3 linked regions of the Homo sapiens genome follow. The protein of the gene in region 1 interacts with the protein of each later gene in a biochemical or structural test. Each region holds a gene or a part of one and is shown in the gene's direction. Other genes may lie near its edges.

Region 1 (3,754 bases):
GCCACACTCGTGGCAAACCTAGAGCAAGAATCTGAGAAAGCAGTTAAGTGGCAAGTGAGCTTTGTTTTGGGTAAGTATAATAGTTCATTTGGGGAAAATAAATTCTGTGCTATGACAGGGATGGTGAATTCTGGGTGCTTGTTCATGAAACAGAAAAAGGATGGGCTCGTGGATGGATTAAACCTGAGAACCTGCAACGCCACCCTGATTTATCCAAAAGGGCTGTAGAGAACTGCTTGTTTCTTTGAAGATTCAGTCGATGATACAAAATTATACAATATTCTGGAGTTGTGGTTGCAGCTAAAGATACATACAGTATAGCCTGAAAAGGTCCAAAGAAAAGGAGGTAAAACACTCTATCTTTGAGCAGCCTCTCAGCTTCAGCACTGCTGACATTTGGAACCAGATATTTTTGGTTGTGTAGGGCTGTCCTGTGCGTTGTAGGATGCTTAGCAACACCCCTGGTCTCCACCCACGAGACGCCAGGAGCACCCTCTTCCGACAAGTAGTGACAACCAAAAATGTCTGCAGGCATTACCAGATGTCTCCTAGGGAGCAGAATTGCCCCCAGGGGAAAACCACTGACCTAGAGGATAAGTTGACCTGAAAAAGATAAGAAGGGAATGTTGTTGCAATCTTCAAAACCTGTAAAGTGGGGTGGGTTACACACATTTATCCATGGACAATTGTCTCTTGAAGCTTGATGTCAATTTCTTACTGAATCGAAATCTTTCGTAATGAATACATATCTTAAGAATTTGTAAGTCATAACCGTTGAAAATACAAATGTGGTCCAGAAGTGTTTTGAGGGACTCCTGGAAAGTGACTCACTCAACTGCTTTGTGGAAGGATAGCCTTGTCTTTCCACCACACATTCCCAGTGCAGCCGAGAGAGGGAGTTTTGGCTTCGCTAAGAGCAGAGTGCTGTTTCTTCTGTTTTTTGTTTTTCATCATTTATGGACAAAATTCTGTAAAGTATACCTGGTTTTAGGTGGATAAAAATAAAACAAGTTGAAGGTTCCATTCAAATATTGACATCCCCTGAGTTTCTGCTTAATTTCAGAATATAATTTTTAAGGATACTTTGTTTCTGTTTCTCTAACTACTACTACTACTGCCCCTTGTGTTTTTCTGTAACATGTATTTTTTCCTCTCCTTCCAGGAAATATTGGAAATTCTTTTATGATTGATCCTGTCTTGGGCTCTATTAAAACTGCCAAAGAATTAGATCGAAGTAACCAAGCGGAGTATGATTTAATGGTAAAAGCTACAGATAAGGGCAGTCCACCAATGAGTGAAATAACTTCTGTGCGTATCTTTGTCACAATTGCTGACAACGCCTCTCCGAAGTTTACATCAAAAGAATATTCTGTTGAACTTAGTGAAACTGTCAGCATTGGGAGTTTCGTTGGGATGGTTACAGCCCATAGTCAATCATCAGTGGTGTATGAAATAAAAGATGGAAATACAGGTGATGCTTTTGATATTAATCCACATTCTGGAACTATCATCACTCAGAAAGCCCTGGACTTTGAAACTTTGCCCATTTACACATTGATAATACAAGGAACTAACATGGCTGGTTTGTCCACTAATACAACGGTTCTAGTTCACTTGCAGGATGAGAATGACAACGCGCCAGTTTTTATGCAGGCAGAATATACAGGACTCATTAGTGAATCAGCCTCAATTAACAGCGTGGTCCTAACAGACAGGAATGTCCCACTGGTGATTCGAGCAGCTGATGCTGATAAAGACTCAAATGCTTTGCTTGTATATCACATTGTTGAACCATCTGTACACACATATTTTGCTATTGATTCTAGCACTGGTGCTATTCATACAGTACTAAGTCTGGACTATGAAGAAACAAGTATTTTTCACTTTACCGTCCAAGTGCATGACATGGGAACCCCACGTTTATTTGCTGAGTATGCAGCGAATGTAACAGTACATGTAATTGACATTAATGACTGCCCCCCTGTGTTTGCCAAGCCATTATATGAAGCATCTCTTTTGTTACCAACATACAAAGGAGTAAAAGTCATCACAGTAAATGCTACAGATGCTGATTCAAGTGCATTCTCACAGTTGATTTACTCCATCACCGAAGGCAACATCGGGGAGAAGTTTTCTATGGACTACAAGACTGGTGCTCTCACTGTCCAAAACACAACTCAGTTAAGAAGCCGCTACGAGCTAACCGTTAGAGCTTCCGATGGCAGATTTGCCGGCCTTACCTCTGTCAAAATTAATGTGAAAGAAAGCAAAGAAAGTCACCTAAAGTTTACCCAGGATGTCTACTCTGCGGTAGTGAAAGAGAATTCCACCGAGGCCGAAACATTAGCTGTCATTACTGCTATTGGGAATCCAATCAATGAGCCTTTGTTTTATCACATCCTCAACCCAGATCGCAGATTTAAAATAAGCCGCACTTCAGGAGTTCTGTCAACCACTGGCACGCCCTTCGATCGTGAGCAGCAGGAGGCGTTTGATGTGGTTGTAGAAGTGACAGAGGAACATAAGCCTTCTGCAGTGGCCCACGTTGTCGTGAAGGTCATTGTAGAAGACCAAAATGATAATGCGCCGGTGTTTGTCAACCTTCCCTACTACGCCGTTGTTAAAGTGGACACTGAGGTGGGCCATGTCATTCGCTATGTCACTGCTGTAGACAGAGACAGTGGCAGAAACGGGGAAGTGCATTACTACCTCAAGGAACATCATGAACACTTTCAAATTGGACCCTTGGGTGAAATTTCACTGAAAAAGCAATTTGAGCTTGACACCTTAAATAAAGAATATCTTGTTACAGTGGTTGCAAAAGATGGAGGGAACCCGGCCTTTTCAGCGGAAGTTATCGTTCCGATCACTGTCATGAATAAAGCCATGCCTGTGTTTGAAAAACCTTTCTACAGTGCAGAGATTGCAGAGAGCATCCAGGTGCACAGCCCTGTGGTCCACGTGCAGGCTAACAGCCCGGAAGGCCTGAAAGTGTTCTACAGCATCACAGACGGAGACCCTTTCAGCCAGTTCACTATTAACTTCAATACTGGAGTTATCAATGTCATAGCTCCTCTGGACTTTGAGGCCCACCCGGCATATAAGCTGAGCATACGCGCAACTGACTCCTTGACGGGCGCTCATGCTGAAGTATTTGTGGACATCATAGTAGACGACATCAATGATAACCCTCCTGTGTTTGCTCAGCAGTCTTATGCGGTGACCCTGTCTGAGGCATCTGTAATTGGAACGTCTGTTGTTCAAGTTAGAGCCACCGATTCTGATTCAGAACCAAATAGAGGAATCTCATACCAGATGTTTGGGAATCACAGCAAGAGTCATGATCATTTTCATGTAGACAGCAGCACTGGCCTCATCTCACTACTCAGAACCCTGGATTACGAGCAGTCCCGGCAGCACACGATTTTTGTGAGGGCAGTTGATGGTGGTATGCCCACGCTGAGCAGTGATGTGATTGTCACGGTGGACGTTACCGACCTCAATGATAATCCACCACTCTTTGAACAACAGATTTATGAAGCCAGAATTAGCGAGCACGCCCCTCATGGGCATTTCGTGACCTGTGTAAAAGCCTATGATGCAGACAGTTCAGACATAGACAAGTTGCAGTATTCCATTCTGTCTGGCAATGATCATAAACATTTTGTCATTGACAGTGCAACAGGGATTATCACCCTCTCAAACCTGCACCGGCACGCCCTGAAGCCATTTTACAGTCTTAACCTGTCAGTGT
Region 2 (3,754 bases), on another chromosome or scaffold:
CTACTGTTCAAAACCTTAGAAATATGGCTTCCCTTGAGCATCTGCAGCTCTGTTTAAAACATGTTGGAGGAAAAAAAATCAAGCAGCAGTTTTTCATGTTGATGGCTGCATTTTGTCTAGACTGTGGAGTAGTAGCATCATGGAAGAAAATCAGTTTTCCAGAACCTTTAAGCTGCATGAATGCCTGTCATTTTACCAAGGGAAGCTTAGGATGAATTTTTTTTTCCCTGCCTGAGGTTTCTTTGTACAAATAGCACAGGAGGACCCCAGCCCCACAGCCCCATGCAGATGGCAGCCTGGCGGGGGGTCGCACCAGTCCTGTCCTCACGTTGGCAGATAGAGATATCTACTCTGAAGCCTCTGTAGGGGCCTGGGCACCTTTGGGAGCCTGAGCTGGAACTGAAGCTGGAGCTGCAGCCTGGGCCTTGGTTTGATCCTTGTCCTTGGCCTTTGGCCAGCACACCCTGAGCCCCTTGGCAATGCGGGCACGAGCATGCTTCCCAAGCTTGGGGTGGACAGTGTAGGCAAGTTGAGCTTGCGGCTGACACCCTTTGGGATCTTGGGCTTAACCTCCTTGGGCTTTAGGAGGGCCTTGATAGCCTTGGCATGTGCACTCATGGCCTTGGCACTGTTAGCCTGCATCTTCTTTAGGCCCTTCTTGTTGTGTTTCTTGGCAAACTGCATGTTCCTCAGGAACTTGGGGTCCACCCCCTTAAGAGATTCGTATCTTTGTGCTTCGGGTTTCTTGATACCATTTCTGTGCCATTTTTGGGACTGGTTGTGTGTGGTGTGGTTCTTGGACTTGGCCATGTCTGCACCTTAAGGCGCGGCTCCTGAAGCGCCTAGAATCTGAAGAGACAGGATGAATTTAATACTAAGGGGGCTGTTGTTTAAAGTGGGAAAGTTAGCACCACACATAACATGCATTTAGACACTTAGCATAATTAATTTGTTTATAAATGAATGTATCTGCCCTTTAGTTAATAAAGTTCTATATATGGACTGAGGAGAAAAAGGAGCGAGCATTTTGTGGTGCTATTTTTTTTTTTTTGGAAAGCCTGTATTTGGGGCTATGACCCTTTCTCATTGATAGTGACTTGAGTAGAGAGAGGAAGGGTAGATGGAAGTAGAAGAGCATACAGCAAAGGCATTTGCTGACGTTTCCACACTTTATGCGTATTTATGCCTAATAAATGTTTGTGGAATTAGCATAGCTGCCTGGACCTATTTCAAGCAAAAGGAAACAGGGCTTTAAATGGCTTTTAAAGCTTTACCTTGGCAATCCATAATTACCTTACTGTAATAGATATCTAAAATTTAATACTGTGGGTAAAGTGTTTCACATATTACAACCTTCTTTTTTTAAACTAATGTTAGGTTATAATAAGGATTTATCTTCGTCTTAATTGTAGATAATTATTGCAAGTCTAGGGGCAGTCTAAGCAAAGGAATTATTTTTAATAAAATCAGTGATTGGGCAGAAAAAAATTATGGCTCCCCTAATAGTAGTTTATGAACTTTTTGGAAATGGAGAAGAACAGCTGAAACTTGACAGTTGGCAAAGTCTGTCAAAGTATCTTGGATGTTGCATGAACTGTTAATTGCAGTGAAGGCAACTAAAGTATGGGTTTGTAAAATAGGTGTATCAGATCCCCTAAAAATTAAGGCATTCATGTATGTAAAATGAAGTCTCTGAAAAGTTTTGAAGCCTCAGTGAGGAGCCCCTGTTAGGTATGACCCCCACCCCCACCTCCAAATAGTATCTCATAATGACAGCAGTGAGTCAGTAGCTATTTCAGAACTATCACAGTAGGCAACAGAAATCAAGTAACTTCAACCACTTATTTCATGAAACCCTTTGTTTTTACTTAGCTCATTTTGGCAACCTAGTGCCATCAGCAATGGTAAAGAATTCTTTCCCTCCCTTCCCTTATTAAGAGCTACTTATACATAAAATGGGGCTCTCCCTGCTAATGGAATCTGTTAATGCTGTTTCTGATTTATCTCACCTGCCTATGGGAACTTCTGGAGTCCTTCCTTCCCCTCTTTCCCCAAATAACTTCCAGAAGCATGGAAATGAGTGCTGCTACATTGCAGCCCAAACTGAGTCTCTTTGCTGAAAGATGGGAAGCTGACACCTCCTTCTGCCTCAAACTGCAGGGTTCTGCTCTCTAGGGGTTGTAGCAAAAATGTGAAAATCTTGATCCAGCACTATAAATGGGTTTTATTGCAAAGATAACCACCCTATCATATCTGACAATAGACAACTTAGATGCAAGTCCTTAATTCGTCATTTGTTCATTTTACCAACTTTGAACCTTTGTTATAGTGCGTGTACTTACCTCAGTGCTGCTGATAGGAAGGCCAATACAATGTGCTCCTTCCCTTAGTGAGTTTATACTTTGGAAGTTGGGCAGACAGTCAAGCCTAAAATTAAAATGTGCAATGAAATTTTGTAGGAGCTATAATGTAGGGCATTATGGAGACACAAAGTGTGTGTTGGGGGGGCATTAGCTGCTGAGGGAAGGATAAAAAGGCTTTGTAGAGGAGGTGATAGTTGTTAAATACTGAAAGATGAGTACAAGTGAGCCTCTTAGACAAATAAGAGGGCATTCAAGGCAGAGAGAACAGTGATTGACACCACTAAAACGAGGAACTGCAAAGGAGTTTGGCATGACAAGCTTGTTTGCTTGAGCTAGCTCCCTTTGGTGTAGCAAGAGATAGGTCTAGAGCCTTATTATGCAGGGACTGGGTTGGAGAACCATGTAGATCAAATGAAAGATTGGATTATCCTGTAGTTTAGTGTGTTTAGAGGTTTTTTTGGCTATGACCCGTTGGAAAGATAAGCATCTTTACATTGCAACCCAATATGCTTGTATATAAATGATAAAATGTCACTACATAATACCCTTGCTTTGTATGGTACACTCTGGTAGTTTCTATTCTGTTCCGTTCTATTTTATTTTTAAGATAGACTGATGATGGTGACCCACTCAATTTATTTAATGACGCTGTGTTAGCAACTGGTAATTTGAAAAGCACTTCTCTTCTGTGTGAAGATTACTAAAGGGTTTTAAGCAGAGTAAGAACATGATCAGGGAAGTAGAATAAGAAAGCAATTTTAAAAATCATTTACAATTTGGTTTTGTGTCTTGTATCCTGTGGAAACACCAAGCCAGAACAATGAACTCTGGCTGGGTAGAGGAAGTGGACAGTTGGGCAGGCCCTGGAAGGTTCCGAAGTGGGGAGGGGAGGGATGGTGACTGAGAGATGTGTAGTTGGCTGAACGGGGCTTTTTCAGAATTAGGACATTTCATTGGAGAGGTAAGAATGTAGCAAAGAGCATGGTATGTTCTTAGCAGAGTCACTAACTATGGGTCATAAAATAGTGAATTTGGGAGTTAAGGGGTTGACAGAAGAAACTGTCCTTATTCATAGTTTATAGTTTTGAGTGATTAAACATCTCAGAAGAAAAGGTGGTTATATCCCAAAAGGTCTAACCTCTCTACTGCCATGTGATTTTTTTTTTTTTCAGTCTTTAGTGTTTAGTTGAAGTATTTATTTTTAGTTACTGGATTGTTATTTCAGATTAATATGACTAACTGGACAGAAGAGTAGGGAAAATGAGTGCCGAGTGCTTAATGTTTTCTGATATAATTTTTTTCTGATGTAGTTTTTAAATGACTATAAAACATTTTACATAGATTTATATCTCAGGTCGTATCTCGTGGAATGAAATGTGCAGTTTTTTTGT
Region 3 (3,754 bases), on another chromosome or scaffold:
TGGTATGGGATAAAACGTTCTTGTGCTGCTTGCAAAAGTCTTTGGAATATTCTTTGGGATATTTTGGTGCTTAGGAAGTGCTTTTCAGGTTATATTAATATATGCTTAGTCTTCATGCTTTCAAGTCCTGTGGGACGTTAATGTTAGTCTTTTAAGTTGAGTCCTTTTTGGTTATATTAAGAGGTAGTTCTGATGTTTCAAAGGCCATCCAGAAATAGGAATGCCTGAACAGGAATTTCCAATTAAGTCGGTCAGAATCCTGAACAGAGGATATGATGAATATATTACGGTATAACTATTAGTGGTATCTGTCAGATGACTTTAATTTTAGGAATAGCATGATCACTGTGTATAATCTTATACAGAAGAGAACTGAATAATAGTTTATGTTCCTGAAACGGTCATAGGCATTTGAGTAAAATGCAGTATATAGATTTACTTGTTAATATTTTGCTTAAAGATGAATATTTAAAAAATGAAAAAGCATATTACTTATACAGGACAGTGGAAAGGTTGAGACCAAAAAGCTGGTACTTTTAGTGTCCTGTCTGTTTAGTTCTATTCTTATTTTTCATTTATGCAATGTTTCAAAAGTGTAAGATGCTTTGTGATTAAAGTGTGCGTGTATGTATGTGAATGCGTTTGTATGCATGTACATACAGTGTGTGCCTTTTAAGTGCATTTTTAAAATTAGTTGGTTTGTTACTTAAGATTTTTTTTTTTTTTTAACTGAAAGAGGAGCTTGTCTGATCTAAAATAGTTGCATGTAGCCTGGTGGCTAAGGAGAGCTCAGAAGATTTTGTATTTACATTCTTGGATCCGTATTAAAATAGTCCAGGCTTCCACTAGCTACTCTGACTTTCTCATATAAAAAGGTATAGTAGGGTTATGAGGATTTGTCCAAGCCATTTACTAGCTGGGTGACCTTGAAGTAATCACATTATTTCACTGATGCCTTTTTAAAAAATATGTAAAAATAGAGATAATTCTTAACTGAGTAGTGAGGATCAAATGATAATAGAAGGTACTTTATACACTGGTAAGCCTTAAATTTATGTTACTCCTCCTGTTTCCAGGCCTATTTCTATGTTAGACTATTTGGGTAAAACTTCTGGGCAGTGGGCTCCACCTTGCGACCTTATTTAGCTCAAGGATGTCAAAAAGACCACATTTTTATTATTTTATAGGTGAGGAAGCTGTTCCCTTCTTCTGTGTTTCCTTCCTTAGGGTCTTTGAAGTATCTTTATTTGTGGTAATCATAAATTTTATATACATTTCAGAGTGTGGTACAATCAAGGGTCAGAAGATCCAGGTTTTATATGCTGACCTGTTAATTGAGTAAACTGGTAAAAAAAAAAAAAAAAAAGGAGATAATCTTATATTTCACAGGATTGTTTTGTGAAGTGTCAAGTGAGATATCCATGAAAGGATACAAATAGTAGTCTCTTTGTTCCCATGGGTCTTCATTTATACTCGTAGCTGTTGGATGTGTGACTTTCCCACAGAGGTTTATTTTAGGAGCAAGAGCCAAATCTTCATTTTTTGAATGTCAGTATTGTAGGAATTTACTAAGTGAATAAATCTTGAAGAAGAGTGTGGATTAATAGAGAAAATTCACTAAAGTTTATTCAGTATTCAAGGTGTTGGATACCTTGTTGGCCCAGTTGGATTAAGCAAAATAACTATGGAGGCACCATTTGGCTGGTATAGAAGAAATTACATACTGAATAGGTTTTGGTGATTTATCTTACAGAAGGCTTAAAACAGGTGATTGTATAACTTGTAAAATATCTAGTCTGTATCATGAGTGTAAGAAAGATTTGAAAAAATGTGATTTCAATTTTTATATGGTTGTAGGGGAGTAAAAGGGTATTTAAACCCTACTTGTGCCAACTTAAAGTTGTCTTTTCCTCTTTTTTCTCCTCCTTGTTTGAAATTGATGAATGGAATTAAGTGGAAGTAAAAGTTAGAGAATATGAGCTGAGGCTGTACTTCAGTGGATGCTTCTTCAGATAAGGGTTTACGAAATTTTCCTGACTAGAAACAAGAAGGGGACTCCTTGTCAGACCTGGGATATAGTCCTTGACTTGCCCCTAACATGCTCCCCCAACCCCCTTGTCCCCCACTATTCCTGTGTGTTCCAGTGCACTTTACATGTTTTTTTGCTATTGAATTTATTCTGTCTTATAATTATGTGGTTCTTTTTGTCCCTCTTCATTGTAAGTTCCTTGAAGAGGATTTTTATATTCATGGTACTAGCAAAATACTAGCATTTTTATATTCATGGTACTAGCAAAATACTTGGCAAATAGTGGGTGGCCTGTGTAAGTGTTTGACTTTGACTGCGTTGCTCTTTTATAGAATCTGTTCACTAGCAACCCCATTTTTGGAATACCTGTAGTGTTCTAGAAGCTCTACTGGATATTGTAGGGTGTAGTGTAGTATTTGGTGGATACTAAATGTTAATAACATAATTTAATTAAGCAAGCAAAAACTCACATCCTGACTCCAGGAATAGGTGTAGAATTTGGTTTTCTTTTGTTCTTTTTTAAATTTTAATTTAATTTTTATTTTGTAGAGATGTGGTCTTGCTATGTGGACCAGGCAGGTTTTGAACTCACCTGGCCAGAATTTATTTCTTATTCTAACACAGAGCTTGGAAGTGGCTACAAGTGTCAGGATTGTCTAAATTCTAAGCCCTTTGGAGGATACCATGTTTACTTGACTTTATGATTAAATTCTGAATTACTGAAAGGGCCATCAATCTGTTTTTAAGTCTCTTTGACCAAAGAACTTGTAAATATTTTCAAGTAACAAGCATATGCATCTCTATTGGTTTAATTTATTTTTACCCCATTTAGTGCTTGCTTTGTTTTGATTCTTTTTTTGTTTTTGTTTTTTGAGATGGAGTCTCACTCTTGCCCAGGCTGGAGTGCAGTGGCATGATCTCCACTCACTGCAGCTTCCGCCTCCTGGGTTCAAGCAATTCTCTAGCCTCAGCCTCCCGAGTAGCTGAGACTACAGGCGCGTGCCACCACGCCCAGCTAATTTTTTGTATTTTTAGTAGAGATGGGGTTTCAACATGTTAGCCAGGATGGTCTTGATCTCCTGACCTCGTGATGCGCCCACCTCAGCCTCCCAAAGTGCTGGGATTATAGGCGTGAGTCACCGCCCCCAGCCCTGCTTTGTTTTGATTCTTATCAGTGCTTCAAATACCAATCACTGGGTAGTGTATGATACTCTTGAAGTATTAGTGTGGGCTGCCATAACAAAATACCATAGACTGGGTGGCTTAAACAACAGAAAATTATTTTTTATTTTTATTTATTAATTTTTTTGAGACAGTCTCACTGTGTCGCCCAGGCTGGATTGCAGCGGCTCGATCTCAGGTTACTGCAAGCTCTGCCTCCCGGGTTCACACCATTCTCCTGCCTCAGCCTCCTGAGCAGGTGGGACCACAGGCGCCTGCCACCACGCCTGGCTAATTTTTTTGTATTTTTTAGTTGAGATGGGGTTTCACTGTGTTAGCCAGGATGGTCTTGATCTCCTGACCTCGTGGGATTACAGGTGGGAGCCACAGCGCCCGGCCTAGACATTTATTTTAAGGTTCTGGAGGCTGGAAGTCAGAGATCAGGTTGCCAGTATGGATGGGTTTTGGTGAGGGTTCTCTTCCTGGCTTGCAGAAGATATCCTTCTCTCTGTGTCCTCACATGGTAGGGTGGGTATGGGAATCCTGGGGTCGGGGAGATGAGGG

What was found.
Region 2: the proteins of FAT1 (region 1) and HOMER1 form a complex in vitro, tested with the Homo sapiens proteins (one study listed by IntAct).
Region 3: the proteins of FAT1 (region 1) and ENAH form a complex in vitro, tested with the Homo sapiens proteins (one study listed by IntAct).

Annotation. Positions count from the first base shown.
Region 1 is NC_000004.12:186,619,184-186,622,937, reverse strand, and holds part of FAT1 (protocadherin Fat 1 isoform 1 precursor), read left to right. Parts: intron 1-1,162; coding exon 1,163-3,754.
Region 2 is NC_000005.10:79,507,490-79,511,243, reverse strand, and holds part of HOMER1 (homer protein homolog 1), read left to right. Parts: intron 1-226; exon of another isoform or gene 227-857; intron 858-3,754. UniProt on the Homo sapiens protein: Postsynaptic density scaffolding protein. Binds and cross-links cytoplasmic regions of GRM1, GRM5, ITPR1, DNM3, RYR1, RYR2, SHANK1 and SHANK3.
Region 3 is NC_000001.11:225,646,371-225,650,124, reverse strand, and holds part of ENAH (protein enabled homolog), read left to right. Parts: intron 1-3,754. UniProt on the Homo sapiens protein: Ena/VASP proteins are actin-associated proteins involved in a range of processes dependent on cytoskeleton remodeling and cell polarity such as axon guidance and lamellipodial and filopodial dynamics in migrating cells.